Linked DNA regions of Homo sapiens. The protein of the gene in region 1 interacts with the protein of each later gene in a pairwise test. Each region holds a gene or a part of one and is shown in the gene's direction. Other genes may lie near its edges.

The links.
Region 2: the proteins of CFAP206 (region 1) and C1orf94 interact in binary tests that used the Homo sapiens proteins (3 or more experiments, as listed by UniProt).
Region 3: the proteins of CFAP206 (region 1) and IKZF3 interact in binary tests that used the Homo sapiens proteins (3 or more experiments, as listed by UniProt).
Region 4: the proteins of CFAP206 (region 1) and C9orf153 interact in binary tests that used the Homo sapiens proteins (3 or more experiments, as listed by UniProt).

The regions. Positions count from the first base shown.
Region 1 is NC_000006.12:87,403,791-87,411,744, forward strand, and holds the start of CFAP206 (cilia- and flagella-associated protein 206), read left to right. Parts: upstream 1-4,181; 5' UTR 4,182-4,299; intron 4,300-6,044; 5' UTR 6,045-6,049; coding exon 6,050-6,157; intron 6,158-6,794; coding exon 6,795-6,878; intron 6,879-7,954. UniProt on the Homo sapiens protein: Essential for sperm motility and is involved in the regulation of the beating frequency of motile cilia on the epithelial cells of the respiratory tract. Required for the establishment of radial spokes in sperm flagella.
Region 2 is NC_000001.11:34,171,985-34,180,719, forward strand, and holds the start of C1orf94 (uncharacterized protein C1orf94), read left to right. Parts: upstream 1-4,922; 5' UTR 4,923-5,805; coding exon 5,806-6,125; intron 6,126-8,735.
Region 3 is NC_000017.11:39,762,847-39,770,910, reverse strand, and holds part of IKZF3 (zinc finger protein Aiolos), read left to right. Parts: intron 1-4,417; coding exon 4,418-5,121; 3' UTR 5,122-8,064. UniProt on the Homo sapiens protein: Transcription factor that plays an important role in the regulation of lymphocyte differentiation. Plays an essential role in regulation of B-cell differentiation, proliferation and maturation to an effector state.
Region 4 is NC_000009.12:86,228,051-86,236,114, reverse strand, and holds part of C9orf153 (uncharacterized protein C9orf153), read left to right. Parts: intron 1-6,485; 5' UTR 6,486-6,511; coding exon 6,512-6,577; intron 6,578-8,064.

The DNA.
Region 1 (7,954 bases):
CTACCCTCCCAGATGGTTATTTCCTATTAGCCTCTCTCCAAGGTTACCCAAGGTTCCACTTCTGACCATGATGGAATAACAAGGACTGGACTTAACTTCCTACCACAAACAACTAGAAAACTGGGCAAAATATATAAAACAACTGTTTGCTATTATTGCCCCCAAATTTCTGCCTGGAGGCAGTTTCCAGATCCTGGGCATAGAAAGGTAAACCCACTGCCTAGGGACTTTATTGAGTTGAGGAGACAGAGATCAGAGTTCACAGATGTGGAAATTGAAGGGCAAAGTTTTGGAAGGGATGAAGCTATACAAATAAATAAATAGAATTCATAAATCTGAGACTTTGCTAAGTACTTGGCTGTTCATGTATGGATTGACAATCCACACAGTCGAGCACAGAATGACCAGGGAGTATAAGCTAAATAATTCTTAGAGCTCACAGAGGATGAGAAGACATTTGAGCTCTGACCAGCCAGAGTGAAGAGTCCTCAGTGAAAACCAAGGAATTCATTGAAGACCTCTGAGCAGTTATTAATTAGTAGTAAGGTCAAATTATTTCTGGAATGAAGACTACTCTAGACCTACCCTAATAAAGCTTAAAAACAGTCCACAAATGAATCAAACTCATCCACAAATAACTGGCTGAAAAAAACAGCACAACCCTTCCTAAAGGGGGACAATTCAGACACTGAACAAGGATGCAATTCACAACGTCCAGTATTCAATAAAAAATTATTATTATTTTTTGTTGTTGTTGTTTGTTTTTGAGACGGAGTTTCGCTCTTGTTGCCCAAGCTGGAGTGCAATGGAGCGATCTCTCGGCTCACTGTAACCTCCGCCTCCCAGCTTCAAGCAATTCTCCTGCCTCAGCCTCCCGAGCAGCTGGGATTACAGGCGCCCGCCACCGTGCCCAGCTAATTTTTTGTATTTTTAGTGGAGACGGCGTTTAACTATGTTGGCCAGGTTGGTCTCAAACTCCTGACCTCAGGCGATCCACCCACCTTGGCCTCCCGAAGTGCTGGGATTACAGGCGTGAGCCACCGTGCCCGGCTCAATAAAAAATTATTAAACATGCTAAGAAGCTCAACTCATTTGAGCTTAAAACTTCTTAAAGCCTGAGGAAAAGGAAAAATATATAATTCTCTCTTTAAATGTTGAACAGTTTGTGACATATTAAAGATACTTAATCAGAAGAAATTAATTCTACAATATTCTTAAAGGCAATCTTTTAGCTTTTAGATAAAAAACATTTGATAAAATGGGTTTCACTTCTTCTAGGATGACTTCCATCACAATTCTATTTTAAGACTGTTTTATGTAGATTTGTAATCTGGTGTTTTGAAACAACATAAAACTTGGTTTCTCTTTTAACAAAACTGAGAAGAGTTCTCATGCCTTCTTTTTCTCAAGGTAAATATATCCAGTTCTCTCTATCTTATTCTGACAAAATTTTTCTTATTCTCTGGATGCACTCTGGTTCCTCCGTGTTTTTTAATTAAATGCCATTGCTGCCGTGTTAAAACTAGGAACAAATAGTTCTACAAAGACTAGAAGTCCAATAAACCATGGGAGTATAAAATATATTGTCATAGTTGATGTTGTCAATAATAACCATGATAAAGGTCATAAAATACTAGTTTCTAAAATTTATGAATCCTTTTATCTATGTCAGATGCTGTGCTAAGTGCTTCATGACGGCTATCTCATTTTACTCTCACAACTCCACGAGATAGATACCATTGTTTTGTTTTATAAATGAGAAATTTAAATCACTGAAAGGTTTATAAATGAACTCTTTCCACACTTATACTGTATAATAAGCCACTCAAAAACTCAGCGGTTTAAAACAATACTCATTCATTATCACACATCTACAGGTTGACTGGAGTTTGGCTGATCTAGGCTGGGCCCTAGTTGGGCATCTCTGCATCTTACTAAAAGATCGGTTCAGGCAATTCTGTGCCATATGCATGTGATTCTGGGACCAAAGAGCTTGCTTTGTATGTACTTCTCATGGCAATGATACAGGCACAAGAGAGAAAGCAGAAATATGGGGTCTCTTTAAGATCTTGGATCTGATTTGGCACACCGTTGCTTCACCACAACCTATTGGCCAAAGCAAGTCACATGGCTAAATTCAAAATCAAGGATTGGGGAAGTATACTCCACCAAAGTCCATGGCAAAGGTGTGGATGCTAAGAGGCATGAAGGATTAGGGAGAATAATTCAATGTAGCACAAAACGCTAAATAATACTTCCAAAGTCATACCCATTGTAGCAGTCAGGGATTCAGTTTGGCTGAATGTAGCAAAAAACCCAAATAATAGTAGCTTAATAAAATAGGAGTTTATCTTCTCTCATGCAAAGTCTGGAGATAGCCAGTCAAGAAGCTGATAGGGCTGTTCCATGACGTTACCAGGAACTCAGGTTCCTTTTTCATTTTTGTTCCACCATCCTTAAGATGTGACCCTCATGTTTATGTTCACAGCAAGGCTGCTGGAGCTTCAGCCAGCATATTCTCATTTCAAGTAGAAAGAAAAGGAAAGGCAATAGACATAAAATGGAAGTGCTTTCCCTGACACCTCATCCAGTGATTACACTTACATCTCATTGGCTAGACCATGTCACAGGCCACTCTCACTGAGAAAGAGGTTGAGAGATTTTTTTTTTTAAAAGAGAACACTGTCATTCCCAACACAGGGTTAAATTAGTAACAGAAAGAGAAGAAAACATTGACATTAAGTAGGAATTAACAGTATCAAACATACTTCAGGGAGTATTTGTGCCAGGATTTGCCCATTAGTTTAAAACTATACTTAATATGATGGTATTATTCTTACCATCTTAAAAGATATTTAATATTCTAATATATAATATATGCTCATGGAAGACATTTTGGTAGCTATCTTAAAGTATAAAGAAGACAAATCAGCCATAAGCCATTACAAAGTTACAACCACTGTTAAAATTTTGCTATCTCACCGTCCTTTGGTTGCTTTACCTTGTATACTTACAGTATATTTGTATATCTAAATTGGGTTCATTCTCTACAAATAGCCAGTCTCATCTCCCTTGTATTTTTAAATTTTGTTTTATAGATCATAAGACAATATATACTCATTATGGAAAAATCTAGAAAAAACAGAAAAGTATAAAGAAATAAAAGTAATTTACCTATAATTCCATCCTTAGATCTAATTGCTTGCTGTGATTTTGAAAAACTGACCTACACTTTTTGTGCATTATATGTATGTCAATATAGTTTAAGTCATATTATATAAAAATTTCGCATTTGGCTTTTAACAAATATAAGACAAACACAAGGTTTTTGTTAACATAATTTTAAATACCTGCCTGATATTTTACTTAAATAACGTGTTTAGATTTCTAAGGCTGTGCTATTATAAATCTTGTTACTCTGAACATCTATTTTTACACAAGCTTCTTCCACATTCCGGGAACATTTTCTAGAAGGCGGAAATAAAATTGTGTTATATTATGATGTATATTCTTGAGTTTTTGTGTTGATTCATTTCCTAGTAATCAGGGAATGTCCTTAAGCAAAGCATATTCTGCATATTTGTTTGCAGTTTGAGAAAAATTACTGTTTAAAAATAAAACCTTGTTGTTTGATGCTCTCCTTCTAATGAGTATTTAATCCTTTTTCACACTTTCACGTCTGAAGGTGGGCCTAACGATATTATCGTTAAGGGATAAAACCTCATTATTTTGACTCGGACACTAATGTGTTCTTATCATGTGCTTCTTGAATGAGCAGTTTTCTCTTCGGGCATCTTGGAGCGTTCTGTTACAGACTTCCTTTGAACAACGGGACATGAAATAAAACCTCGATACTTTTTACTTTTGTTTTTTAAAACTAGATACTTTTACAAGAACTCTATTTGCCCAGGATACAGCCCTTCCGTTTTCCCAGCCTCTCCAACTGGCTCCTCCCTCTCCCCCACCCCGCTTTCAAAGCCGCCTCATCATTCCCACGCTAGCAAGTTAATATCCTTATTTACGAGAACTTGTGTTTCACAGTCTTAACCACGGAGGTTAAGATGTCTCTGCCTGAAATTCCTTTGTTTTTAAAGTTTTTCCAGCCCATCTTTTGGGGGAAAGACCCTCAAAGTGGGACCCCGCCCCACCCCCACCTGGCCCCGCCCCCTCTGGTCCGGAGCCTTCCATCTCCATGGTTACGCGGCGGTGGCTGCGAGCGCCCAACTGCTCCGACCGTCGCGGTGAGGGCCCCAGGACAGAAGCAGACAGACACGGCTCCTGCTGTCGATTCCGATCCAGGTCAGCCTACTCGGGGCTCCGCGCCCTTGACCCGGAGGCGTACCCCGCCAGGCGGCGAGCTTGGGGCGGCTGGCGGAGCTCGGGCGGCTGGAGGACCGCGTCCTGCCTCGTCGAGACTTAGCTCTCAGTCTCGATCCTTTAGGCTGCGCCGCCGCAGAGCTGGAACAGCGGTCCATTCCTGCCGGAGGCGCCACCCCAGGGCTGCAGGGCTGCCCTCTAGCCTTTGCGCGGGTGCCTGAGGCCTCCCGCTTCTGTTTCGCTCCACTGGCTACCCCAGAAGCCGGACCTCGGGAGACTTAGTAATTGGAGGGTGGGTGCAGGGAAGGTGCTGAGCCGCGTCCCTAGCGACCCGGCAGCGGCGCGCATGCGCACACAGATCCGGAGCGCGCACACAGATCCGGAGCGCGCACACAGATCCGGAGCGCGCACACAGATCCGGAGCGCGCACACAGATCCGGAGCGCGCACACAGATCCGGAGCGCGCACACAGATCCGGAGCGCGCACACAGATCCGGAGCGCGACGGACTCTCCCACTGACTGGCACTTGCGCATGCGCTGCCTGTGATCTTGGAGTACTGATTATAAGCTGTTTTAAGCGATTCCCTTAAGCCGCGCACTGTTGTAACCACTAAAAACAGGACTAATTTAGTCCTCACACCTCTGGAAAGAAGTGAAGCAAGTGCCCAAGGTCTCACAGCTGGACAGTGGTCGGGTCACCATGGAATCCAGGCAATCTGGTTTCACTGGACAAAATGCCTAGTGCTTCGTACTCATCCATTGGAAAGCTAATAATGCTGAGGAGTTGGCTTTATCTACCTGATATTGCCTTTGTTATACTCTACATGCCAACTTCCATTGTGCTTAGTTACTGATATTCAGGAAAATCAGAAAACTCGATCAAAACCTACCACTTTTTCCTTATAGTAAATGCTTTTTTTTATCGAGAGTCTGAACTCTATTTTAGATGTGCGGAAAAGATCATTTTAATGATCTGAGCAAGAATTGTTTTCCAAGATTCTAGTACAGTTCTGAAGGGTCATTTAATGAATGTGGTGGAATAAGCATTTCTCCTTTTAAAGCTGTACTCTTGGGTTTCTCATTAATTTTACCTCCCTCCCCTACAAATACTGCTTAGCCTTTTTTTTTTTTTCCTGAGACACAGTTTCGCTCTTGTTGCCCAGGCTGGAGTGCAATGGCACCGCAACCTCCGCCTCCCGGGTTCAAACGATTCTCCTGCCTCAGCCTCCCAAGTAGCTGGGATTACAGGCGTGTGCCACCACTCCCGGCTAATTTTGTATTTTTAGTAGAGACGGGGTTTCTCTGAGTTGGTCAGGCTGGTCTCGAACTCCCGACCTCAGGTGATCTGCCTGCCTTGGCCTCCCAAAGTGCTGGGATTACAGGCGTGAGCCATCGCGCCCAGCCTGCTTAGCCTTTTTTTTTTTTTTTAATTAAGAATATCATGATAGGAATATATGTTTAGTGACCATAATTTAAATAATTGAAAATGTTATTTATCAAATGTTTCAATTATTTGAAATCCCAATCGTTGTCTGTCTTCAATAAAGTCCTTCATTTTTAAAAATAATGAAAAACAGGAGAGGCCTAGATACTAATAAAAATGCTAATAAGCTAATAGATGATATTATGACTGTTTACAAATACAATATTGCAGAAATCAAAAGAGGAAAAAAATAAATTTGCATAAAACCACGGTTTTTTTAAAAAAAATTGTTGTTTTATTTAGCCAGAATGCCTCCAACTCAGGCCGAAAGTGTTATAAGGAGTATTATACGAGAAATAGGACAAGAATGTGCAGCCCATGGAGAGATTGTTTCTGAAACTCTGATTGCTTTTATGGTAAGAAGAAATATTTTTGTGATTACTGTTTTATTAAGAGGTTTTTTAAGATGTGGTGTCCATTTTCCCCTTTAAATTCTGTGAGGCTTTCATAAATGTTTTTCAGTTGAAGCATAACGAGATAATTGGACAAATTTGTGAAAACATTTTTAAAAAGTTTATAGAGCATGTGAGTTCTAGATTTATAGAGACATTTAGAAGACCTTGATGAGTTTTGGAAACATCAATAATGTTCTCCTGTGTGGGAATTTTTTGACGTGTATTTTTGTTTGCCGTTGTTAAAAATTACTCATTGCTGTGGTTTCTCTGTTCTTGCTTTTGGTTAACAATACACAATAAAAATACAATAAAATATGCCATAGTTTCCCAATTGAAAACCTAGCCATTGCTTTCAACTTATTTCCCCATATAACTTTTCTAGCACCATATTCAAGTTTGATGTTTGTTGCTTCCTTTTTTCAACCTCTAACAAGGGTACTGATGAGTTCAGTAATAAGAAGAATAGTTGGAAAACCAACCCCAACGTAATCAAGAGGTAGTTGTTTAAAAAATGGAAACATATTAAGCTAATAATATGAAATAAAATTGCTTAATGGATTCTTTCCTAGTTAATGGACTCGTTCCTACTTTTTTCTAGGTGAAAGCTGTTGTCCTGGATCCAAGTAATGGCTTTAACATGGATAGAACCCTCATGAAAAGTGATGTGCAGAATCTTGTTAAGGTGATTACCCAACAGTCCTCAAATTTGCAATTACTTATTCTCAGTTGTAAATACAATATTTGTATTAGTCATTATTGCCTTCAGCTGCATGAAACAAAAGCCCACAAAATAGTAGTATACACGAGATATTTTTCTCATAACACAAAATCTGGAGAGACATAGACCATTCTTCCTGGCTTCCTGGGGCACACCATCCTTGCAATATGGTCATCTGGTGGTCAAAAGATAGCTACCCTGCCTCTAGGCAGAAAGAAGGGGGAAAGACAAAGGGCAAAATATGTGTGCCAATTGGGTCTATCACCTTCTATCCAGAAAATAATAATTTTCCCAGAATCCCTCCCATCTACTTAACATTTATTGACCAGAATGATATTGTAAGTGACCCAGGGACATTTCACTTCTTTTTTCTTTCTTAGATGAATAAATCCTTGCCCCAATCCAAATTGAGGCTCTGTTAGTAAGGAAGGAAGGGCAGGGAAATTGGGCAGGTAGCAGCATCTGCTACAGTATTTTAGTGAAACCTTGTTACTAATGTCTTACATTGCAAACATTAACTAGTTCGTCATATACTGTGAAGTTAAATAGAACTAAATTAATTTGCATTTCTCTAATGCTGAGTGATGTTGAGCATTTTTTTCATGCTTTTTGGCGATTTGTATGTCTTCTTTTGAAAAATATCTATTCATGGCCTTTGCCCACTTTATAATGGGGTTATTTGTTGTTGTCGAGTTGTTTGAGTTCCTCGTAGATCCTGAATATTAGTCCTTTGTCAGATGCATAGTTTGTACATATTTTCTCCCATTCTGCAGGCTGTCTTTTCACTCTGTTGATTATTCATTTTGATGTGTAGAAGCTTTTTAGTTTATTTAAATCCAATTTGTCTATTTCTGTTGCATTTACTTTTAAGTCATGAATTCTTTGCGTAGGCCAATGCCCAGCCCCCTAGGTTTTTTTCTGTTATTTTTATAGTTTCAGGTCTTACATTTAAGTCTTTAATCAATCTTGAGTTGTTAATTTTTGTATATGGTGAGACATTGGGATGGGTTTCATTCTTCTGCATATGGTAATCCAATTTT
Region 2 (8,735 bases), on another chromosome or scaffold:
TAATCTGAAAGCTGCCTCAAATCATCTCAGCAGTAAGGTAGAAGAAGTCTTAAGTGAATGCATTTTAGTGACCAATGTCCCGGCATGGAAGCTATGGAAGGAAGGGCAAAATATAAAGCTTCTAGCTGAAGGGTTTCCCATAAAGGGCCTCGCCAGGAATCCTTGGCATACCTATCACTACTGGGGTCTGGCAGAAAAACCAAAGCAGGAGGAAAGCCAGCTGAATTCTGACTTTGTTTCTACCTCACTGGACCACTACTGCCACCACCATATTCTTTTATTCTGTCATCTAGGACCTTCCTTTTCCCTAACTTTAAGTGGAGATCTCATAGGCTGCCATTTTTACATTGCTAGGCTCTCAATAACAATAGCTAGTGATAATCATAATTACACATTTCTTTTTATTGAGAGTTTACCATAAGCCAGGCACTGTGTTGAGAAGTTCACGTGCATTTCCATATTTAAACCTTCTTCCTACCCCAAACCTATTGTTTTTACAACTTTGCAGATGAAGAAATGTCAGAGAAGTTAAGTATATACAAAGCCACCTTTATCAAGTAGTAGAGTAGGAATTCCAATTCAAGTGTGTCAGCTGCCACCACCCGAGCTCTTAACTGCCTCCTCTCATGTGGGCAAGGAACAAGGCAATAGTAAGGGAAAAACCCCCAAGAAATGGCAGAGATCACCGATGGTGTTGCCAGGAGAGAGAAGCCACAGAGTCACAGCTTTGCTTGCAGAATATTCAAGGTTCCTTTTCAAAGTCCTAGAAATGGCTGGCTGCTCTGCAGCCCTGTCCTGTTGCTGAGACAACATGAGGGGGAGGCCCATTCCCATGAAACATGGCTGCAACCTCCTCTTCCTTTAGCTGTGATGGTTAATTCCCCAAGATATTTGCCTGGGATACTCCTATGCATGGATCCTGCCTCTGGGCAGTTTGACCCATTGAGCATTATTCGCATGGGAATGGGGGTCCCTCTGGGTTTTAGGGACCTACAAAAGCGTTTGAGTCCTAAATATTTTATGATTAGTCCCACAATACAAAGAAGAAAACTGCCACATGGAAATCAGTAAATATTTAATTAAATGCAGAGTATAACATTATGTCAACTTCATTAACTGTTGGATTTAGTAGTCATAAAAATTTCATTGCATTTGGTAACAATTTGTAGGTTGGAGTTTTCTCACTGCACAAGATTTCTCGAGTAGGCACTAAGATTGGTGAGAAATCACAGCCCATCACAAATTAAATAAATTACTCATGGCCAAAAACTTTCAAAAGCAAAATGGCAAAAATCCTTTCAATTTTCCTCTATAGCCAAAAAGTTATTTTTATGGTGAGAGGTGGGTGTGTTTAAAATATGTTAGATGAGGAACCTAAAAGGACCTACAAGAGTAAGCAGCCTTAGGGGCTATATGATGATTGTAAAAGAGCCTAGGCCATTCCCACGTTTCTGAGTTTTCCAGCCTAGCCATGTTTGTGTCAGAGATGAAAGCCAGATGAGAAGAGGCTTTGACTGGATGGGAGGTAAGGAGAATTGCCTCCTCCTTAGGCCTTCCTGGTTCCACAGAGAAAAGCTAAGAATCCCAGAATTCTAAATAATGATAGCCAACATTCACTGGATACATACATTAGCCAAGCTATTATAAGCACTTTACATGTATTATTTCATTATCGTAAAACAAGTCTATGAGGTCAGTATTTTATTGTCTCTGTTTCATAGATGAGCAAATGGAGACATTGAGGTTAAACCAACCTGCCCAGGGTAATGTAAGTAGTCAGGGGGAATTCAAGAAGTTTTCCAAGCTAAAAATAATTTACAGATTAAATGGTGTCCATGACCATTAAATGCTTCACTTTAAACTCTAAAAAAGACAGAGACCAAACTCCTCTTCTTCACTACTCTATCTTCAGCACCTCAAACAGTGCTGGGCATAGATACATGTGTTGGAGGAACATAACTCCATGTTGGATGGAAACTGGAATAAGTCAGTTTATATCACACTGCTCTGCACCAGGCACTTATGGAATGCTTTGCCCCGCCTCTGTCACTAGGTGATTCTGTCTAGGGTAGACATCTTTTTCATCATCTCTAATCCCTGTGTCTTTCACAATTTTGACCCATGATGGATGCTCAAAAATGAACAAAGCCTGGAAAGGCGTAAGTGATTATGTGAATTCGTTTCTCCATCACAGAACAACTTCCCCAGTACAACACAATTCTCCCTCTCTACACAAAACACAAAAGCTGCTATTCAGAAACTCCAAAGGCATGCATTTCAGTGTAATCAACAAGCAAACAACTGTATAACACGTTTATCTGTCAGTTGTTGTTCAAGGGACTTTCCATGTGTTAAGCAATTGGTTAGTAATAGAACATCTGTAGTAATTCTACAAAGCAAGTATTCTTCATTATCATCCCATTTTACAGACTAAGAAATCAAATGTTGTGGGCTGAATTATATGCTGCAATCCTAAACCAAATACCTCAGATGTGACTGTATTTGGAGATGAGTCCTTTAAAGAGGTAGCTAAGATTAAAAAAAAGAAAAAAGCCATTAGGGTGTGTCCTAATCTAATATGACTGGTGTCCTTTAAAGGAGTGATTAGGACAGGGACACATATACAGGGAAGACCATGTGAGGACATAGGGAGAACACAGCCAAGTGCAAGCCAGCGAGAGAGACTTCAGAGTGAAACTAACAATGCCAACATCTTGGTCTTGGCCTTCTAACCTCTAGAATGGCAAGGAAATAAAATTCTGTTGTTTAAGCCACACAGTCTGTGGACTTCGTTATGGTAGCCCTACCAAACTAATACACCAAGGCACAGAGTAACTTGCCTAAGCTTACATTGCCAGAAAACGTGAACTCAGAATCTGAACCCAGGGACTCTGGTTCCCGAGAATATGTATTTAATGATAAGAAATGTTCTCTGTGCTGTCCAATATGGTAGCCACTAGCCATATGTGGCTACTGAGCACATAATATGTGGCTAATGCAAATGAGGAGCTGAATTTTTCATTTAATTTATATAAAAATAAAGTTAAAATTAAAACAACCCCATGTGGCTAGTGGCTACCATATGGACATAGCTTTATACTATTTCTAAGTACATCACTTAAGATTTTTGCAGAATTTTCTAGAAATCTCGTCTGTGCACTCTAAAAACATGCTCTATCTTTGTTCCGTATCCCTGCTGTATTTGATTTTTTTTTTTTTTTTTTTTGCAGTCCTTTCTGATTTAGCCCCCGTTGCCTGGTCTCCTGCTGAGGGGGAGAGGGAACAGGAAGAGTGAGTGAGCTGGCTAACTTCCAGAATCCTGGGGCCTGGGCAGTGCAGGGTCGTTGGCGTTCTGCTCTAAGCTTAAGGTGTTAGCCAACCAAATGCCAAGCAGCACAAACACTGAGTGACATTTTCAGAACTATTAATATTTCATCAGAAATGATCACTTTTCCTTTAAATACACTATTTTAAAAGGTTTTCTACATTCTTAACTATAATTTTATTCAGTCTAGGCCCTCAGAATTTTCCCCAAAGGAACACATCTTCAATTTTGTAATGAAAATCAAAGGAGAATGAAGCTCAGATTTCAAAATTTAGAGTAAACATTTCCAGGAACTCAGCCCCTCTGTAAAGAGCAAGGTTGCGTATTGGGCACCTACTGTATACCAGGCACTTTACATACAGTATACCATTAATTCATCCAACACATATTTTTTGAGTGCCTACTATGTGCCAGAAACATGATCCTCATAATTTATTAACACCATTTTACAGAAAAGGAATTCCTCTCATCCTTCTCAAATTTTTCTCCTCAAAGAAGTCGGCCTGGACCACCATGGAATATTGCCTCCCCTCTTCTCCCCAGTGCCTCACTTTGTTACTAGGTTGGTACAAAAGTAATTGTGGTTTTTGCCATTGCAAGTGATGGCAAAAACCGCAATTACTTTTGCACCAACCTAATAGTTATTTTCCATCAGAGTCCCATTGCATCTGTAATTATTGCTGCTTTACTCGCTTGGCTGGTTTGCATCGATCTCTCCTCGCTAGTATACAGGCTCCAGGAGAGCAGGGACCATGCCATTTTTGCCCACCCTTATGCTTCTTCAGTGCCCAGCAACTCATCGGGCACAGAGGAGGGGTTGCATCAGTACTGGGGGAATTATGAATGGGGATGGGAGAAGTTCAGAAAGTTCTTAAGGTCACACAGCTCGGAAATGAGTGTCAGGATTCAACCCAGCCCTGCATTTATAGACTGCCATCTTCCTCTATTTGTGTCCATTCTTCTTTCTTCCGTCTCCACCCTCTTGCTTTTCCTTTTCAGGGGAATTGCTAGAGAAGCAACCCCCTGACTCTCGGAACCAGAAAGTCTCCCTCAGCAGAGGTACTGTGTCAGTGCCCAATTGAATGAAGCCGCTTCAGTGAGGGTAGGGGCCTGTTGATCAGCAAACAGCTAACTTAGCCCTTCTCCCTGCACCTCGGACCTCCTACTCCTGCTCCTACCCACCTACTGAAGCTGTCTCAGTGGTCAAGGGCTAGATCAGGCCTAGAGTGCTGGGGTCTGAGTCTCAGCTTCCCTTTTCTCAGGGGGCCTTGGACGCAATCCCTTATGACTTTGAGATTCGCTTTCCTCCCGTGTAGAACGATAATAAAAAGTGGTACTAATTTCACGAGCTTTAATAGGATTGAATGTGAGCCCAGCGCTTGGCACAGGGCAAGCGCCCCATAAAATGGCAGTTAGGATTAAAATCGAGGTTGCCGGGGGACCCCCAGGCAGGAGCTGAGATTTGTGTGGAGCGGCGAAGTGGGGCGGCGGCGCGTTTGGCTTTGACTTCTGATCCCCCGAAGCGCTCTGGGGTCCTTTGGGCCCCACCCCCACCCACCCCACCGGCGGGTCTTGGGCTCCGAACCCAGGGCGCCCCGCGCACCGAGCCGTTGCGTTTGAAACCCACAGAAAGAATTCCCCCGCTCGACGACGGCGAGGGTGTGGGAGCTACTGGCAGGCAAATTGGTGGGAGCCGCCCGGCCCAGCCTGCCTTGCCGAGTCAGCGCGCTCTTGAGCCGCTGGGCCCTTCCCGGTGCCCGCCTGGCAGCGCGGCGCGGCTGGGGCAGGGGTCTGCTGGGGGCCGGGGACTAAGGGCTGTGGGCCCATCCACACACGCCTCATCCCTTCTTTCCGGGGGCAGCAGAGCAGCAGCGGGAGACCGGGAGCAGGAGGGGTAGGGCGAGAGAAAAGCAGGACCTGGGCCGGGGGTGGGAGTCGGGCCGTTGACGCTCGCTCTGCGAGGGGCTCCCTGGGAACGCCCAGGCGAGCGCCTCCTGCGGGGCCCCGCCCCCCGAGTGCCTACAATGGTGCCAGGCCCGCACCCAGTCCTCCGCGTGGCTTAGCGGGACAGCATGGGCTGAGCCCAGGCGCCGAAAGTTGTCACGGCGGCGTCGCAAGGGGGCAGTGCCAGGGACTGTGGGGAGAGCCAGCCCTCCCCTTCCAGCTGTTCCCAGATGTCATTCTGCCCGCCCAGGCGCCTGGTTCCTGAGCTCCGCAGCATTCCACTGTTCCTAAGCTACTGGTTTTTGTTGACTTTTAAATATTTTCTTCTAAGGGAGAGGGGGAGGGAGGCAAAAGTCAGGAAAGAGCAAATAAAAACAAATCAAAATAAGCCCTCCCCTCCCCAAAAGAAAGCTGTCCTCCACCCACCCCTCCCACACAAATAGAAGGCCTCTGAACCTAACCACCTTGCTGGAGCGAAAGCCAGACAGAACTGACCCACTTCTGCCAAGCCCCATCCTCATCTCCCTTTCTGGTGAATGAGGGGTGGTGGTGGTTGTGTTCTAGCCCTGGGTGGACAGAGGGGCTTCCAGAAAGAGAGGAGGAGGATGGCCAGCGGGAATGGGCTTCCTTCATCCTCGGCCCTGGTGGCCAAGGGCCCCTGCGCCCTGGGCCCATTCCCCAGATACATCTGGATCCACCAGGACACACCCCAAGACAGCCTAGACAAGACTTGCCATGAAATCTGGAAGAGAGTTCAAGGCCTGCCTGAGGCCTCACAGCCCTGGACCTCCATGGAGCAGCTCTCTGTCCCTGTGGTTGGAACTCTAAGAGGCAATGAGCTCAGCTTTCAAGAAGAGTAAGTACCCCCCTACTCCATTGGCAGCAAGGGAGGAGGGAGGAGATGAAGTCTGACCTTCTGGGGGAATGTTCTGGCCCACTGTTGAGGCTGGTGAAACCCTAAAGGCTGTATATTGCCCCCTCCATGGTCCTTTGTCCAAGCTTTATAGAAGAGCTGACCAAAGTTCTGAAGTTTTGTGGGTGAAGAGTCAGATTAGGGCTATATTCCAGGCTGCCTCTTCACCAGCCCGTTAAGCAGACATTTCTCATCCTAAACGCATGTGAATCTGAGGTCCTTGAAAAACCACCCTAGCTAAGGCTAAGGGTTATATGGCTTGTGGCTTTCCCCAGAAGCAACTAGAAGATCCTTCCCCTCTCCCACCTAAAGGCTAGGCATTCACATGGATGAGTCTGATGGTTTTAAATCACATCTGGAATTCCCTAATACAGGGAGCAGCTGTCCCATTCAGCCTCCACAGAAGCTGCTGCAAGAGCACACATCAAAATATTTACTGGGAAGGCACTGACATATTCAGAGGACATAATAGAAAATTAAAGTGCGGGAAGATGGCTGTAAATAGCCCGTTTCCGGGATGGGAAATCCTGTGTCTGGGAAACACAGAGCTAAGTGTTTCTCCATCAGGGCAAAGTTGGGCAGATATTGTTGAGGATGGATATTCGAAAGGAAAGGAAGGAGCAGAGAGGAAAAAGGGAAATTAGGAAAAGAAAGTAAATCTGCTGTGGTTATTAATACCGCCGTTGAGCACTTACTTATTTCACGTTTTGCATCTTCAAAGTGGACTGTAAACTTAATTAATGTTCCCAGAGTCCCTGTGAGGCAGGTATTAGTGTCCCCATTTTACAGATGGATTAAGTGTTAATAATTAAGAGCTAATTAAAGACTAACCGATAATTAAGTGTTGCCTGCTCCAACACATGCTACAGCTCAGTTCAGAGATGCTCTGGAGTTGGGGAGCCATTCAGGCATTTATCAGCTGCCTCGGGTTTCAGGGATGCCTAAGCAAGAGCTAAGAAGAAAAGCAAAGTGTAAATGACACCCAGCTCTACACTACCTGCTGTCCCTCTGTGGGCTCATTTACTTACTGCAGATGAAGGTGGAAGGCACTTTGGCTAGTCCTGCCTCCCTGCCCTGTGCTCAGCATGACAAGGCTCAGACAGGAATGGCCCATCTACAGCTAAAATCCTGCTGTCAGGCCCTTCAGTGGCACTGAGCCCTTCTCCCCTGCTCATTGCCATCTGCTCTGGGACAGGGCCTTGGCAGGAGGGCCCATGGGGCTGTGCTCTGCTCTCAATGGCCAAGAAGCTGATTGTCCACTTTGTGGACCAAGGGTCAGTAGCAATTTCCAGTAGATGGCATCCTCTTTGCCAGGTCACACAGAGTTAATGGAGACAGACTCGACTTCCAGTCTGCACTTGGCTGAAAATTGAACTGGTGCACCTTTGGCCAGCTGCTTAACTCCATTTGGCCTTTACTTCCTCATTTGCAAATTGAGGGTGATATGTGCTGCCTTGTCTACCTCAGAGTTGATAATGAGGATCCAATGTGATGGGAGACAGGGAAATGAAAGATGCATTATACAAATCAGGCTGCTCTTAACATGTACTTCTTCAGGTTGGGATTTGTTGTTGTTGTTGTTGTTTTTGTTGTTGTTGGCTTCAATCTGGGGTTCACACTATGCTCCATATACCTCAAGGTGCTTCAGGGGTCACTGTGGAGTCAAGTGGGCTGGTTGCTGGGCCCCAAAATCCATTTCAGCCAGAGCTGTTTAGCTTTTATCAGTTTTACTTACTAGAGTTCTGAGTAGGGCTGAATTTGAAAAACATGTTTCTGCTATTGAGAAAAGAGATAGGAAACCAATGACTTAGACGAATAAACGACATCCTAATTGTCAACCAAATAGAACACAATGAGCTATTCTTAAAATAAAGGCGGTGTGCTGGTGGAGTCAGATAACTCTGGTTTCAGATTCCATTTCAGCCCCATGCCATTTGAAGAATTTGTTACTCTTTAATTTATCTAAACTTTGGTTTCCTCATCTGCCAAATGGAGATTAATACTATACATTTTGTAGGGTTGTTGGAATGATTAAATGGGATATTTAAACATTTATGGTAATAATTCAGATTTGTAAAAATTCCTTGCAATTCAGATGTGATCATTTCTTTAAGCTCTACAATTATTGCATGAGGTAGGTACTCTTTTAAACTTTCCATCTCTTTTTACTTTTTATTATGCAAATTTTCAAACACATAGAATAATAATATGGTGAATATCTATGTGTCTATCACTGAGTTTCAATAATTATCACATTGTGCCATTCTGGTTTCAATTGCTACCTCCACCCCTCCATTTATAAGTGAAATTACTTTTACAGATAACGTGGCTGAGGTTTGGAGGGGTTAATTTCTTTGCCCAAGCTCCTACAGTTAGGAAGTAGTAGAGTTTCAGAAATGAAACCCAAGACCGCCTTGGCCCTGAGGCAATAATGTCGGCTGTCCTGTCTTAGAATCTGGGGCATCTTTGAATAGTCAAAATAGTTGGGAGTCCCATATACTGAATGATCACACACAGAGTGAAAAGCCAGGGAGCTGTTCTTACTATTTCTAG
Region 3 (8,064 bases), on another chromosome or scaffold:
TCACTTGAACCCAGGAGACGGAGGTTGCAGTGAGTCGAGATCGTACCATTGCACTCCATCCTGGGTGACAGAGCAAGACTCTGTCTCAAAAAAAAAAAAAAAGTATCAACCCCTAATGGGCTGGTAAAATGAGACAGTATGCAAAGTATCTAGGATGGCACGGTGGATACAGCAGGGGCTCAATAAATAGTACTTATCATTATTGGGATTATTGTATATAAGGCACAGTGCAAGGTACTGTGAAATATAAAGACCAGAAGTAAACATATTAGGGTGGTGGGTCTTCCCCCTCAACCCTGCAGACAGAGTTCTGAATCCACTTGCTCAGTTAAGGGCCCTTTTAGCTCTAGCCTGTGATTCTGTACTTCCAAGTTGGCACTTAGAAGCCAACAACCATATGTCCTCACCACATTGCATCAGTTCAGGTCAGGTGGTTTCTTAGTTTAGAGTTAACAAAGCCAAGATATAAGACATTGACACCTTTAAAAAGAACCACAGGTAGGGAATGGCCCAACCAGGCAGCCTTAGTTTCTAAACTTAGGACTTGCTGTTGCCGTGTGTATTTTTGTTGGAAGAAGACCTCTAATTCAGCCTGAAGCTGGTATCATGAATCATTCAAAGGCGTGGTGTGATTTTGACTAGAAGCTGGACCAGATGCTCCGTGCAGGTTTGGAAGCAGTTACACTTTTGTGGTTTGACTAACCTTTTTTATGAGTGTGTTACTAAAGAAACGTGAGCTGTTGGCTTTTCAATTACTGTAGTTTACCCTTTCTGGGTTTCATACACATTGAGTCATCGTGTCTACAGGTGACTGATAATCATCTGCACTGCTCAAGTTACCGTAACTCAGAGACGAGGGGATCTGATGATTGCAAGTTGCATGCACGTGAACATCTGAGGCTGCCCCATCTCCTTAACAATGAACAATGGTCTGTGTTAACTACAGAATTCAGTCACATATTTCCACTCATCCAGGGGTTTATCTTCCTCTTAATGTTTTGCCTTTTACAATTTTAGCACTCAGCTGTTTTCTGACATATGCTGCAGGTGGTATAGATTGTGAAATTGTAGGCCTTGTTAAGTAAAGCAAACTCTTAGGAGAAAGGATAAAATCAGAGTTTGTGATGTGCCTACCCCACCCAGAAACCTTCTGGAGCCTCTCTGTTGGGTGAAAAGAGAAAAAGTTTCTCAAGGACCCCTGGTATTTAGGGAGATGAATAGAGGTGGCCACAGTGGAAAATAACCAATAACCTTAAAAAGGCCAAGAAACCGAAGTTCATCATTTCTGTGTCACATTCTAGGGAATGAATGTCTGTGACCTTAGCTGGCTCTCATGTTCTCAGTCTTCCAGATGGCCTTGACCAAAGATATATCCAATCTGGAAACTGAAAATAAAAAACATTGATTACTTTGGCCAAGGTCTACTCTGCTGTTGCTTCTCATTGAGTTTCCAAGACAGGGTATTTTCGTTTGCATATTTTTTTTCTCTCTCAGGTATTTCTCTGGAAACTATCAGGTTGGCCTTAAGGTCAGCTGCTTGTGGGGATGCAAAGACAAATTCATCTCATGGGAATAGATCTTTTAGCTGGTTCTTCTGGCTCCAATTTCTCACTGTTCTGGTCTGCCTTACACATTGCTGTTACGTTAACCACAAACCTGTCTTTCTCAAGGGCAGGTAGCCTTGGCTCTTGGTTCGGATTCACACCCTACAGTGGGCCATTCGGAATGCCCACCATTCGGTCCTACCATGCATTATCTTTTTTCAGTGTTTCCCCAAATGTAGGATGCAAATTGCCAGCAAGCACATGGAGCATTTAAAAACCTGGGTCCACACAGCAGGATAATTATTTTCTTTCCAGTTCTCTTTCAGTCTCCTGGATCATACTAAGGAGAAAAATTTAGACTTAATTTGATGCCAGTTGTCTTTAACACTAATCTCACACTTGGTAATCTCTGTTTTTAACAAAGGGGGAAGGGATCTTAGTCTCCAAGTACTCACAGTAGTATCCGATCAAAATTTAATGAAATGCTCTGTTTCATTGTCTTTATTTTTCATAGTTACCTTCTACTTGTGGAAAGTGATTCTGGTTTTCCGTTTATGTTAGTGATATAAAGTTTCCTTAAAAACCACATTTATTTTAGAAAAAGAAAAAAAGAAAGAAAATGTGAACCAAATCAAACAGAGGAAAAAAACCCAAGCATTTACCAAGTGTTTTCCATGTGGCAGGCCCTGTTCTAAGTGCTTTCCAGTGACCCTGTGAGGTACATACAATTATCTTCACTTTACATGAGGACACGGAACATAGGTTAAGTGACTTGCCCAAGGTCACAAAACTGGTGACCAATGGAGCCAGCATCAAACCCAGCCCATCTGACACCAGAGTTTATTCTCTCAACCACCACACTGCCCTGGTGTGTGGATATTGCAGAATGTGAAGGAAGAGTGAAGCCTGAGAAATACTGTATTTCATACTTCTTGATCGCGTTTCAGCCAGACTCGCTTTCTGCACACGTCCCGTGTAGTCCCACCTCTCTGCCTTCATTCCTGCACTCCCCCTCAACTAGGATGTCCTCTCCCGCTTCTCTGAAAATCTAAATTCTTCCAGTTCAAGACCCTTCTCAAAATTTAGATTTTCCAAGAATGCTTTCCCTTCCCCAAGTACTTCTGAAGTTTCTGCATTCCCTTAATGCCTAAATATACAATTTATACCAAATTGTCTCACCGATGCCTGTATGTTACCTTATTATTCTTTTTAAAGAACACGTTACTTCCCTGCCTAAATGCCTCAAATGTGGGCATTTAGAATAAAAGCAAAGACCTCCATAGAGCAAAGCAGTCCTTTTACAACTTTTTTTTTTGAGACAAGGTCTTACTCTGCCACCCAGGCTGGAGTGCAGTGGTGCCATCTCAGCTCACTACAATCTCTGCCTCCCAGGCTCAGGTGATCCTCCCACCTCAGCCTCCTGAGTAGCTGGGACTACAGATGCCTGGCTAATTTTTGTATTTTTTTGTAGAGACAAGGTTCCTCCATGTTGCCCGGGCTGGTCTCGAACTCCTGGGCTCAAGTGATCCTCCCTCCTCAGCCTCCCAAAGTGCTAGGATTACAGGCCTGAGCCACCGCGCCCGGCCAACTTTTAACTTATACTTTTTCTCGAGTTCTATATATATATAGGTCTTATTTCTCATCCACTAGGTTGGAGACACCTCAAGAACAGGAACTGGTTCTTCCAATCCTTTTGTTTTCTCATGGCATTTTTTCTTCTTCTTCTTTATTTTCATTGCTGAACCCTTTACTGTAGGGCAGTGACAAATTTTGGAATCTCAACATGACTAGGAAACATTATAGAAGGATATGGTTTAGCAAATCCCTCCAGGATCCAAGCTGACAGAATGGAGAGGCTCAACAGTGACCTCAGCCTCACCTCCAGCACTCGGCTCCACTTCCTCGCTTTCTCTCCCCTCTCCCCACCACTCACCACTGAGCACATCTGCCCTCACTGCAGTCCCCATCCCTGCCTTCCCTGTGACCAGAGAGCCTCTGTTTTCTAACACACAACACCCACACACTCTGAAGGTGGCTAAACTCTGTTTTCAAAACTTCTCAGCAGTTTGACATGAGAAGTAGGAGAGGGTGACCACAAGTATATTTTTTCAGTTAAGTGTGAGATAGGCCCTAATGATCACATGTGTATCAGAGATACACTTGCCAAGCAAAGGAAGAGAAACACACGTTAGGAAAGGGACAAAGACCATGATCTCTTCTCAAGAAAACTTTTCTCAAACTTTCTACATTTGAAGCTCTTTCACTTCAGTCTCAGTCAGCCAGGACGGGTGAGTTTGGGGAGTAGCCAGTTGGAGTCTGGGGGGCTATTTTCTCTATCTCTGTAGCTATTTAAAAAGCTGCCGAGGTGAGGCACCGAGTGTCCCCACTCTTTGCAGCACTTCTGTCCCCCTGGCTACCTAATATTGCAAGCAGAAAATAACAAGCAAAAGCAAAATAAGAGTTGGGAGCCGACTGTGTCTTAAGAGATCATGAACTATAGCAGAAGTCCCAGGCTCCTGTGGGCTGGTGGCTCCCTTGTCCCTCTAGCCCCATCCTAGTGTCCTGCTTCTTTCCCTCCTTTCTTGAGGGCTCTCCTCTAACATGCACAGTGGGCATACCTTACCATGTGGCCTCAACTGAACCACATCTCTGCCCCTCTCTTCTGCCTGCTGGCTTTATTTTAACCATCCAAACACGTTGCTGCCGACCAGTGTCCCCTGAGACAGCACCATGGGAAACCATTCTGCCAGGCTTGGTCTTCTTGAGCAGCAGGCAACTTAACTCTCCTCCCTTTTTGAGGTCTCTAGAAAATATTTACAAACTCTCTGCCTTGGCAGTGTTCCCTTTGTAACCCTTTCTGTCACTTGTTCCAGGTGAGAAGCGCCACTGCTTTGATGTCAACTATAATTCAAGTTACATGTATGAGAAAGAGAGTGAGCTCATACAGACCCGCATGATGGACCAAGCCATCAATAACGCCATCAGCTATCTTGGCGCCGAAGCCCTGCGCCCCTTGGTCCAGACACCGCCTGCTCCCACCTCGGAGATGGTTCCAGTTATCAGCAGCATGTATCCCATAGCCCTCACCCGGGCTGAGATGTCAAACGGTGCCCCTCAAGAGCTGGAAAAGAAAAGCATCCACCTTCCAGAGAAGAGCGTGCCTTCTGAGAGAGGCCTCTCTCCCAACAATAGTGGCCACGACTCCACGGACACTGACAGCAACCATGAAGAACGCCAGAATCACATCTATCAGCAAAATCACATGGTCCTGTCTCGGGCCCGCAATGGGATGCCACTTCTGAAGGAGGTTCCCCGCTCTTACGAACTCCTCAAGCCCCCGCCCATCTGCCCAAGAGACTCCGTCAAAGTGATCAACAAGGAAGGGGAGGTGATGGATGTGTATCGGTGTGACCACTGCCGCGTCCTCTTCCTGGACTATGTGATGTTCACGATTCACATGGGCTGCCACGGCTTCCGTGACCCTTTCGAGTGTAACATGTGTGGATATCGAAGCCATGATCGGTATGAGTTCTCGTCTCACATAGCCAGAGGAGAACACAGAGCCCTGCTGAAGTGAATATCTGGTCTCAGGGATTGCTCCTATGTATTCAGCATCGTTTCTAAAAACCAATGACCTCGCCTAACAGATTGCTCTCAAAACATACTCAGTTCCAAACTTCTTTTCATACCATTTTTAGCTGTGTTCACAGGGGTAGCCAGGGAAACACTGTCTTCCTTCAGAAATTATTCGCAGGTCTAGCATATTATTACTTTTGTGAAACCTTTGTTTTCCCATCAGGGACTTGAATTTTATGGAATTTAAAAGCCAAAAAGGTATTTGGTCATTATCTTCTACAGCAGTGGAATGAGTGGTCCCGGAGATGTGCTATATGAAACATTCTTTCTGAGATATATCAACCACACGTGGAAAAGCCTTTCAGTCATACATGCAAATCCACAAAGAGGAAGAGCTGACCAGCTGACCTTGCTGGGAAGCCTCACCCTTCTGCCCTTCACAGGCTGAAGGGTTAAGATCTAATCTCCCTAATCTAAATGACAGTCTAAGAGTAAGTAAAAGAACAGCCATAAAATAAGTATCTGTTACGAGTAACTGAAGACCCCATTCTCCAAGCATCAGATCCATTTCCTATCACAACATTTTTAAAAAATGTCATCTGATGGCACTTCTGCTTCTGTCCTTTACCTTCCCATCTCCAGTGAAAAGCTGAGCTGCTTTGGGCTAAACCAGTTGTCTATAGAAGAAAATCTATGCCAGAAGAACTCATGGTTTTAAATATAGACCATCATCGAAACTCCAGAAATTTATCCACTGTGGATGATGACATCGCTTTCCTTTGGTCAAGGTTGGCAGAGCAAGGGTATAAAGGGGGAAATTGTTTGGCAGCACCAACAGAAAACAAACAAACAAAAAACAGCTACCTAAAACTTCTTGAAAGAGTTCATGGAGAATTGGTGATACAGACCCAAAGCAAATTTGCCAATGATATTTTCCACAAAAAAAGTCCAAAAAGTATGGCTCAGCCTCCCCCTCCCCACAGGAGAGGAATTGGAGATAGATGGCATGTGTGTTTAGATCGGAGTTGAGCTCCGGAATGGGGTGAGGAGGGACACCTCTATTGAGAGGTTCTCCTTGATCAGGCAGGCTTCGGCCCTTTTTTTCCCATTTAAATGGAACTGCTGTATTCCATGAAAATTCCTGAAAGTCTGATCACGGTTCTGCAGATGTATAAGTCATCCTTGTCACTCATAATATGTACATACTATCAGGAGGAGTGCTGTTATCATGGTAAAATTAGCACTGGAATAGGAGGTCACAAAATGCTGGCTAATTAGCTATGTGACTTTGAGAAATCGTTTAACTTTTTTTTTTTTTTTTTTTTTGAGACAGGATCTCACTCTGTTGCCCAGGCTGGAGTGCAGTGGTGCAATCATGGCTCAGTGCAGCCTCGACCTCCCCAGGCTCAGGTGATCCTCCCACCTCAGCCTCTTGAGTACTGGGACAACAAGTGCACACCACCATGTCTGGCTACATTTTGTTCTTTTTGTAGAGATAGGGGTCTCACTATGTTGCCCATGCTGGTCTTGAACTCCTGGGCTCAAGCAATCAGCCCGCCTCAGCCTCCTAAAGTGCTGGGATTACAGGTGTGAGCCACCACACCCAGCCTTATTTAACTCTTAAAACTCAGTTTCCGGCCAGGCTCGGTGGCTCACACCTGTAATCCCAACACTTTGGGAAGCCGAGGCAGGCGCATCATTTGAGGTCAGGAGTTCGAGACCAGCCTGACCCACATGGTGAAACCCTGTCTCTACTAAAAATACAAAAATTAGCTGGGCAGTAGTGGCACATGCCTGTAATCCCAGCTACTCCGGAGGCTGAGGCAGAAAAATCGCTTAAGCCTGGGAGGTTGAGGTTGCGGTGAGTGGAGATCACACTACTGCACTCCAGTCTGGGCGACAGAGTGAGACCCTGTCTCAAACAAAACAAAACAAAAACAAACAAACAAAAACAAAAAAAACTCAGTTTCCTCATCCATAAAATAGGAATTAGATTTCAATGTTCTCTTAGGTCCCTTCTAGCTTTAATTCATATGTGATTATGCAGTAACCACAAGGTATTTTTTAAACCTCCTAATGTATGGATATTAAGCAGAAGAGTATTTATATGAATACATGTTTCACATTCCTTTGGTATGAAAATGGTGTGTTAAGTTTTTCCTTTAACCACTGAGTTGTGAATGTGAAGAAGGTGGTGGAGAGGAACAAAAAACAGAAAGGTATTTTGATCTTGCCACAAAGCATACACACAAATTGGCACATGCAGCTGTTTGCCAAAGCCTTCTTTTTTTTTTTACTTTTTAAGAAATTATGTTAGGGAAAATAAATTCTGCTTCCAGGGACAACTTCATGGAGCCTATTTACAAATTAAGAGTCAGCTTAATTTGTAACATTTCTACCAGAGCCAAGAATCCCAAATTCCTGGTAGATTAGTGTTTTATTTCTAAGGGGCTTATGCATTCGGCTCCAACTCAACTCGTCTATGTGCTGCCAGTAATTAAAATGTTCCACCTCAGACTGCACAAATGGCTTATCCTTCTTTGTGGCATGGCGTCTGTCTCAGGAAAAAAGGTTTTATGAAATTCCATGGCAACAGTCCCAACATGTTTGAGACTTCAGCTAAAGGAATGGATGTATTTTGGTGTGTAGTCTTCAGTATATCACTGTATTTCCGTAATACTAGACTCCAAGCTATGCCAGATTGCTTATTCCCTTTGTGAAAGAGGAGTTGCTCATTACGTTCTTGAAATATCGCACATCCTGTTGGTTCTTCAAGGGACAAGAGAAAGAGAATTTGGAAGCAGGGATTAGTAGAAGAGAAAACGAGGGAAAGGAAGCCTTTCCACCAGATTAGTGTTCAAGTCTTTGCAGAGGAGACCAACTTTTTTTGTTTTCTTTTGTTTTGAGACAGTCTCTCGCTCTGTTGCCCAGGCTGGAGTGCAGT
Region 4 (8,064 bases), on another chromosome or scaffold:
TTTATAGCAAATAATTACTTTTAATCTTCCTGTGGCTTCTTTCAAGATTTCTTTTCTTTATCTTTGGTTTTCTGCAGTATGAATATGATATACCTATGTGAAGTTTTTTGTTTTGGGGGGTTTATGCATTTAACCTATTTGATGTTCTCTGAGCTTCTTGGATCTGTGGCTTGGTGTACAACATTAATTTGGGGAAATTTTAAATCATTATTGCTTCAAATATTGCTTTTGTTTCTTTCTTCTGCTGGTATTCTCATTATGCATATGTTATACCTTTTGTAATTGTCCCACAATTCTTGGATATTCTGTTACCATTTATTTTCCAGTGTTTTTCTTTCTCTCTCTCTTTTTTTTTTTTTTTTTTTTTTTTTTTGAGATGGAGTCTTGCTCTGTCACCCAGGCTGGAGTGCAGTGACGCGATCTTGGCTCAGTGCAACCTCCGCCTCCTGGGTTCAAGCGATTCTCCTGCCTCAGCCTCCCGAGTAGCACATGCCTCCACGCCTGGCTAATTTTTGTATTTTTAGTAGAGCTAGGGTTTCACCATGTTGGTCAGGCTGGTCTTGAACTCCTGACCTCATGATCCACCCGCCTCGGCCTCCCAAAGTGCTGGTATTACAGGCATAAGCCACCACACCTGGCCTTTTTTCTCTTGATTTTTCAGGTTTGGAACGTTCTGTTGAGATATCCTCAAGCTCGGACATTCTGTCCTCAGCCATAGCCAGTCTACTAATGAGCCCATCAATGGCATTCTGCATTTCTCTGACAGTGTTTCTGACCTTTAGCATTTCTTTTTGATTCTTTCTTAGAATTCTCATCTTCTGCTTATATACCTGTCTATTCTTGCATGCTGTCTACGTTTCCCATGAGAGTCCTTAGCACATTAATCATGGTTGTTTTACATTCACAGTCTGGTAATTCCAGCATCCCTGCCACATCTGAATCTAGTTCTGATGCTTGCCCTGTCTCTTCAAACTCTGTTTTTTTGCCTTATAATCTTTTGTTGAAAGCCGAACATGATTCCTGTACTGGCTCTTCTGGAGGCTTCTGCCCTGTTCTCGAGGAGCTTCCTACTTCAGTAAGCTGCAATTCCCTGTATTTGCCTGTCTGTTTCTCCAATTTTAGGTCAGCAATTTGCCCTGTGACCTTACTTCTCTGCCAGATCTAAGAAGAGTTGCTGGTACTTCCAAGCTCCTTGCATGCCAGAGGAGAAGCCACACTAGAAGTCCCGTTGCCCATATTTCAGCTGGGTTGTCTTTTAATTGCTGATTTCTAAGTGTTCTTTGTACATCTGTATACAAGTTCCTTGTCAGATGTATGATTTGTAAATATTTTCTCTCATTCTGTGATTGGTCTTTTCACTATTTTCACTAAAGCACCAAAGTTTTTAATTGTGATGAAGTCCAACTTATTTATTCTCTTCTTCTGTAGCTTATGTTTTCGTGTTATACGCAAGAAACCATTGTCTAAGCCAGGGTCACAAAAATTTACCCTTATGTTTTATTCTAGGAGTTTTATAGTTTCAGCTCTCATACTTAGTTCTATAATCCATTTTAGGTTCATTTTGTGTAAGGATTGAGGTAGGGGTCTAATGTCATTCTTCTATGTGTGGATATTTAATTGTCCCAGCACCATTTATTGAAAAGACTATTTTCCTCCATTGAATTATTTTGGCAACTTTGTCAGAAAATCGATTCACCATAATTGAGTTCTCTTTAAATAATTTTTAGCCTTTATTTCATTTCCTGTTATTTATGTTTCCCTTTTATATGACACAATAGCTATTCAACATTGTGGTTCTCTCCATTTCAGCTTCAGTTCTACTATGTTTTTATTTAGATTGTCATAAAAGAGAAGGAAGGACATTCTGTCTGACTAAATGGGAAATCAGAGTGAGCATAAGCTCAAAGAAAGAATGCACAGAAGCGCAGAAGATTTTTTCAGAAAAAAATGAGCCCAGCTGGCTAAAGTACAGAGAACATTTATGGCATTGCGGTAGCATTGAAATATGGTCATTATTATTATCATTTTTTTTTGAGACAGAGTCTCACTCTTTCTCCAGGCTGGAGTGCAGTGGCTTGATCTCAGCTCACTGCGACTTCCACCTCCCGGGTTCAAGCGATTCTCCCGCCTCAGCCTCCCGAGTAGCTGGGACTACAGGGATGCACCACCATGCCCAGCTAATTTTTGTATTTTTAGTAAAGATGGGGTTTCACCATGTTGGCCAGGATGGTCTTGATCTCTTGACCTTGTAATTCACCCGCCTCAGCCCCGCAAAGTGCTAGGATTACAGGCGCCAGTCACCGCGCCCGGCCGAAATATGATATTTTTAAATGATAGAAAAGTGTCAGAAGCAGATTGTGAATAGTCTTTGTAAGTCTGGTCAAGAAATTTATAAATTGGACGAGCACAGTGGCTCACACCTGTAATACCAGCACTTTAGGAGGCCAGGGCAGGTGGATCACCTGAGGTCAGGAGTTTGAGACCAGCCTGGCCAACATGGCAGAATCCCGACTCTACCAAAAATACAAAAATTATCCAGACATGGTGGCACATCCCTGTAATCCCAGCTACTCAGGAGGGTGAGGCAGGAGAATTGCTTGAACCCGGGAGACGGAGGTTGCAGTGAGCCGAGACTGCGCCACTGCACTCCAGCCTGGGTGAGAGAACCAGACTCTGTCTCAAAAAAGAAAAAAGAAAAGTGAGGACTGTAAAAACTACACTAGAATTGATAATTAAGAAGTCACTATTGTTTTTAAGAATTCAATTTTAGTTCATCAGCCAGGTGGAAGCTAAATGTCATTATACTGAAGATTACATGATGAAAATATAAATACAGCAAGTTCAGAGGTAAAGAAGAGACAAGAGTCCAGGGTTAGTGGTAGGATCACAGTCAAGAGAAGTTGCATTATTACCCCAAGTGGAAAACATTTTACATATTTGCAAAGAAAGGAAGGAGCCATTGGGGAACATGAGACTGAAGATAAGAGAATGATAGGAAGCAAGAAGGAAGACAAGAGGAGTTGTTGTTGGAAGGGAAGGGAGGATAACTGAGGGGAAATATTCCACAAGAGTTATGAGGAGGGGCCGGGCGCAATGGTGCACGCTTGTAATCCCAGCACTTTGGGAGGCTGAGGTGGGTGGATCACTTGAGGTCAGGAGTTTGAGACCAGCCTGGGCAACATGGCAAAACCCTGTCTCTACTAAAAATAAAAAAATTAGCCGGGTGTGGTGGCGCTTGCCTGTAGTCCCAGCTGCTTGGGAGGCTGAGGCAGGAGAATGGCTTGAACCCGGGAACTGGAGGTTGCAGTGAGCTGAGACTGTGCCACTGTACTCCAGCCTGGGTGACAGAGTGAGACTCTATCTCAAAAAAAGAAAAGAAAAGAAAAAGAATTACGAGGAGGATAAAATATACACCCTGGGTGGGAGAGAGAAAAAATTAACATTAGATGAGCAGAGAGAACTTTTTTCCTTCTGATTTGGAGGGAAGGGTGAAAAGTTGGGGGTGAGTGCAAATGGAGAAGAGGATACCATCCCCGAGAGTTTCTGTGAGACGCCCTTGCTCTTCACAGTACAAGGAAAATTTACTGTAGGAATCTGTGGGAGTAACGATGAAGAGAAGTGCCACAGTCCCCTGCAAAAGCTTCACTTTACTCACACAAATCTGTAAACAGGCCATTGGCCATATTTCCATGACTTCACCAGGAACACTCTCCATGAGAGATTGGGTCAAAGGGCTGGTCTAGATTTAGGCATTGACTTGGATCAAGCAAAAACTGAGGTTAAAAGTTTGCTAGTCAAGTCAACCTTTAAGTGTCTAAAAGCATTTTCGGCTAGTGATCTGTTTCAGCATTCGGAATCCTGACACTTCAGTGAGAGGGAAATGCACCCAACGGTAGTTTAGCAAAGAGAATGAGCAAGAATCTAAACTTATTTGTGCTCCATTCCTTGTCATCATCAATACTATTGTAATAACATGAGGACATATTTCTTAGCTATTGCTTTGACTCCATGTATAGAGAGTTGGAGATTGGCCATTGAAGTTGGATATTGGCACTGCTGATTAAAATTGGGAGGTGGCAGGGAGAGAGAGAGAAAAGGGGAGAGAGGCGAGAGATTACATCTTTCCCTCCTCTGAGGGAAGGGAGGAGAAAATTTATTAACCCTTGGTGATGGGAGAAGGCAACCTTCCTATGGTGGACAACTCTGAAGCTGTCTGAAAGACAATAGCAATGATTGACTGGAAGACATTGACAGGTTTTAGGTAAAGCACATTAGAGAAATATTTTCCTTTGCAGAAAAAATTTCCTTCCTTTGCAGGAGGAAAGCACAATCAAGTCTCATTGTAATTGCCTAGAGATAAACAGGTCTGTGGCAGGCATGCTGCACTGTATTGCTTTTCTAGTCCTGTATATCAATATAGTGATCTCAGTAGTGACAAATAGTGACAAAAATGTATTTGAGATTTTATATATATATGTATATATGCATATACATACATGTATATATATATATATATCCATGTTTGTGTATGTGTGTGTGTGTGTTTTTGTGTGTGTGTGTATCCATTCTGGGTTTTTCTACTTTACTCAGGAAGGAAGAGAAACATAATTGTTTTCACTTCATTCCAAATACCAAGTGAGTGTTTTTGGTTCATCTCAGACACTCATCCCAGTGACCACAGCTGCCAGTCATGATACAGTGGTACCCTGTACCTAGAAATATATTTTCCATCCATATATTCTCTTACCTACCAATAAGGGTTTCACTGGAATAAATTAAGCCAAGAATGTGAAGTTTTATGGGGTTTATCTGTATTTATTGCTATATAACAATTCATGCAAAGCTTAGTGGTTTGAAACAATAATAATTTACTCTTTGTCAAAATTTTAGAGTTGCCTTGCTCAGCTGGGAGGTAGTTCTTCTCCATCTGGGATTGGCTGAGGTTGCTTATGCTGCTGTAGTTATCTGGAGGCTCGTCTGGGGCTGGGTGAACCAAGATGGCTTTATCTACATGTCTAGTGGTCAATACTGGCTGCTGAGTCTGCATGGTCTCTCCAGATAGGCAGCCAGATCTCTCTTTACATGGTGGCTCAGGCTCCCAAGAATGTGTAGGAAAGCCGCAAAGCCTCTTAAGGTCTGGGTTCTGGCACTCACACTATGTCACTGACACAATGCCACAAGCTATTGATCAAAGCCAAGCATAGGCCAGCCCAGTAAAATGTGGGAGAGAACTTAACTGCCACTTATCAATGAGATGAATTGTGGAGATTCCATGGCCATTTTTAACGTCTTGCAGAAAAATTAAACACAATTCCATCTGCAAAATGCCTTATAGTGTATCTGACACAAAGTAAATTATTTTCAAAATATTTATTGTTTTTATTATTATCATTACATATGAGCCTTTTCCTCCTGAATAAAAAACACTTTTTGAGTGTAAGGAGGTGGGTGAGTTTTTCTTTAGATGAACTGAAAGTTGATCAGAATATGTAAGACAAGAAAATAAAACTATCCAGCTGGGCGTGGTGGCCCACACCTGTAATCCCAGCATTTTGGGAGGCCGAGGTGGGTGGATCACCTGAGGTCAGGAGTTCAAGACCAGCCTGACCAACACGGTGAAACCCTGTCTCTACTAAAAATACAAAATCAGCCAGGTGTGGTGGCACATGCCTGTAATCCCAGCTACTTGGGAGGCTAAGGCAGGAGAATTGCTTGAACCCGGGATGCAGAGGTTGCAGTGAGCCAAGATCGTGCCATTGCACTCCAGCATGGGCAACAAGAGTGAAACTTCATCTCAAAAAAATAAATACATAAAATAAAAAATAAAACCATCCATATAGGATTTGTTACACTAGTATTAAAACTAAATACACATGTTGTAGAAGAATTTGGGTATTTCAGTGAAATGCTCAGTTGAAGCATGACAAATTTGGCAGACCTAAACTACGAAAAAGCAAATGAAAAGTTTAAATTGTATTGATATGCTTTGGATTTGTGTCCCCACCCAAATCTCACATCAAATTGTTATCCCCAGTGTTGGAGGTGGGGCCTGGTGGGAGGTGACTGGATCATGGGGGAGGATTTCCCCTTGCTGTTCTCATGATTGTGAGTTCTCATGAGACCCGGTTGTTTAAAAGTGTATAGCACTTCCCCCTTTGCTCTTTCTTTCTCCTGTCCTGGCCATGTAAGACGTGCCCTGCTTCTCCTTTGCCTTCCCCCAATAATTGTAAGTTTCCTGAGGCCTCCCCAACCATGCTTCCTGGACTGTGTGCAGAACCATGAGCCAATTAAACCTATTTTCTTATAAATTACCCAGTTTCAGATATTTCTTTAGAGCAATTCAAGAATGGACTAATACAGGTATAAAATTTTCAAAATGTCCCACTCACAAATTTATTAAGATTTAAGAAGTCTCACCTCCCCCTTTGTATTCTATCTGATTTTTAATCTTTGATTTTTGTCTTTTCTCATATTGCTTTTTTTAGGAATTAGAGAATAAAATCCCAGCACGATGTTCCTCACTGGAGACACCAGTCCAGCTGAGGACAATAGAGAAGCCACCCTTCCTCAATGTTCAGTATGTACTTAACATTGTACAACGAGGTGTACACAGGGAGCTTTACATTCAAGAATCATAAACATTCAAACTATTGAACGCACAGTGACACACTTGGGAGCCATGGGAAACTCCAAAATGTCACTTTAATGACTTAACATTCTTAGTCACAGAGAAGTGTAGCTCTTCCCAGGGCAGGTGGGCAGAAGTGCTGAGCTGTTTTCGTGATAGTGTGGTTGTATAATTCGTTATAAAGAGCCATTCACCAATGTTAGCACACTTTCTTTTTTTTTTTTTTCTTTAGGAAAAGATGTATTAACCAGAGAACAATCCAGCCCAATTTCCAGGCTAAAGATTTCATGATATCGGTCCAAACATCACACTATTTAACTCCCCAAAAAAACACTGGAAAAAAAGACTATCAGTGCTAACACATTTACTTATAAAATCTCCACCTATGTACCAATTTCTAAAACAGTTACAAGACAGATACACAATTTGGGGTAAACTAACAAAACAGACTATTATAAAATATTAAAAGCAATCCTCCTGGTCCACGGGCCCTTGTCGCCTCTTACTTGAAGTTGGCGTAACTGAGAATGCATCCATATATTCCTGCACCACCTTGTAGCAGAGCTCATACTGGTTCCAGGGTCTGGACCACTTGTGTAGCCTCTGTAGCCGCAGACTCTTGACATTCTGGAAGACGTCCAAAGTCCCTTCTACTTTCCCACGCGTTAGCTCACTTTCTATTTGTTGCCCTTGCAATAAAATTGACTAGGATTGAAGGAAAACTCTGCATTGGGCTAAAGGACCTAAATTTCAGCCCTAACCTGAGACTATGGCCTCTTTGGCCTTCCAGTGTAATGGCCTAAGAAACCTCTTAGAAAGGATAGGATTTGTAGGAAGTATAGGATTTTAGATGGGGACAGGTCCTCTCAGGGATCTGTTACTGTTTTTTTCTGCCAATAACTATTCCCAGATACTCAATGTATGTCACCATTTGCTCTGGTCACATATCCCAGTGAGCAATGACTATTGTCGCCTCCTCAGCACTGGATTCCTGAACATTATGGGCTCTTTGGACAACAGGATGAAGCTCTGATATCTAAGTGATCTGGCTCGCTTTCTTCCTTCAAAGACATAATAGCATTGTTCAAAACAAGCAAAGGCCACAGTCTCCCACAGCTATTTCTCTCCGTGGTCACTCATAGAATTTCAGAGTTGGAAAGATCTTCAAGACTTCTTAGTTCAATTCTAACTGCCTAATTTTATAACAAGCATTTATAAGACGTGTCTAAATAATACATCTTTAAGGGAGTGAATCGGAGATTTGACCTCTCTGTTCTCTATTCCACATTGCCACAATTGACTTGCTTTAGTTAGGCAAAGATATCTTCCAAAGATAAAAATGCTTTTGTCTTTATGGTTATTTATTGTCCTATGGTTTTTTCTAGGGTTTGTAGGTCTGCCAGAATATTACATTTTTGTCAGTCTCGTGACTTACC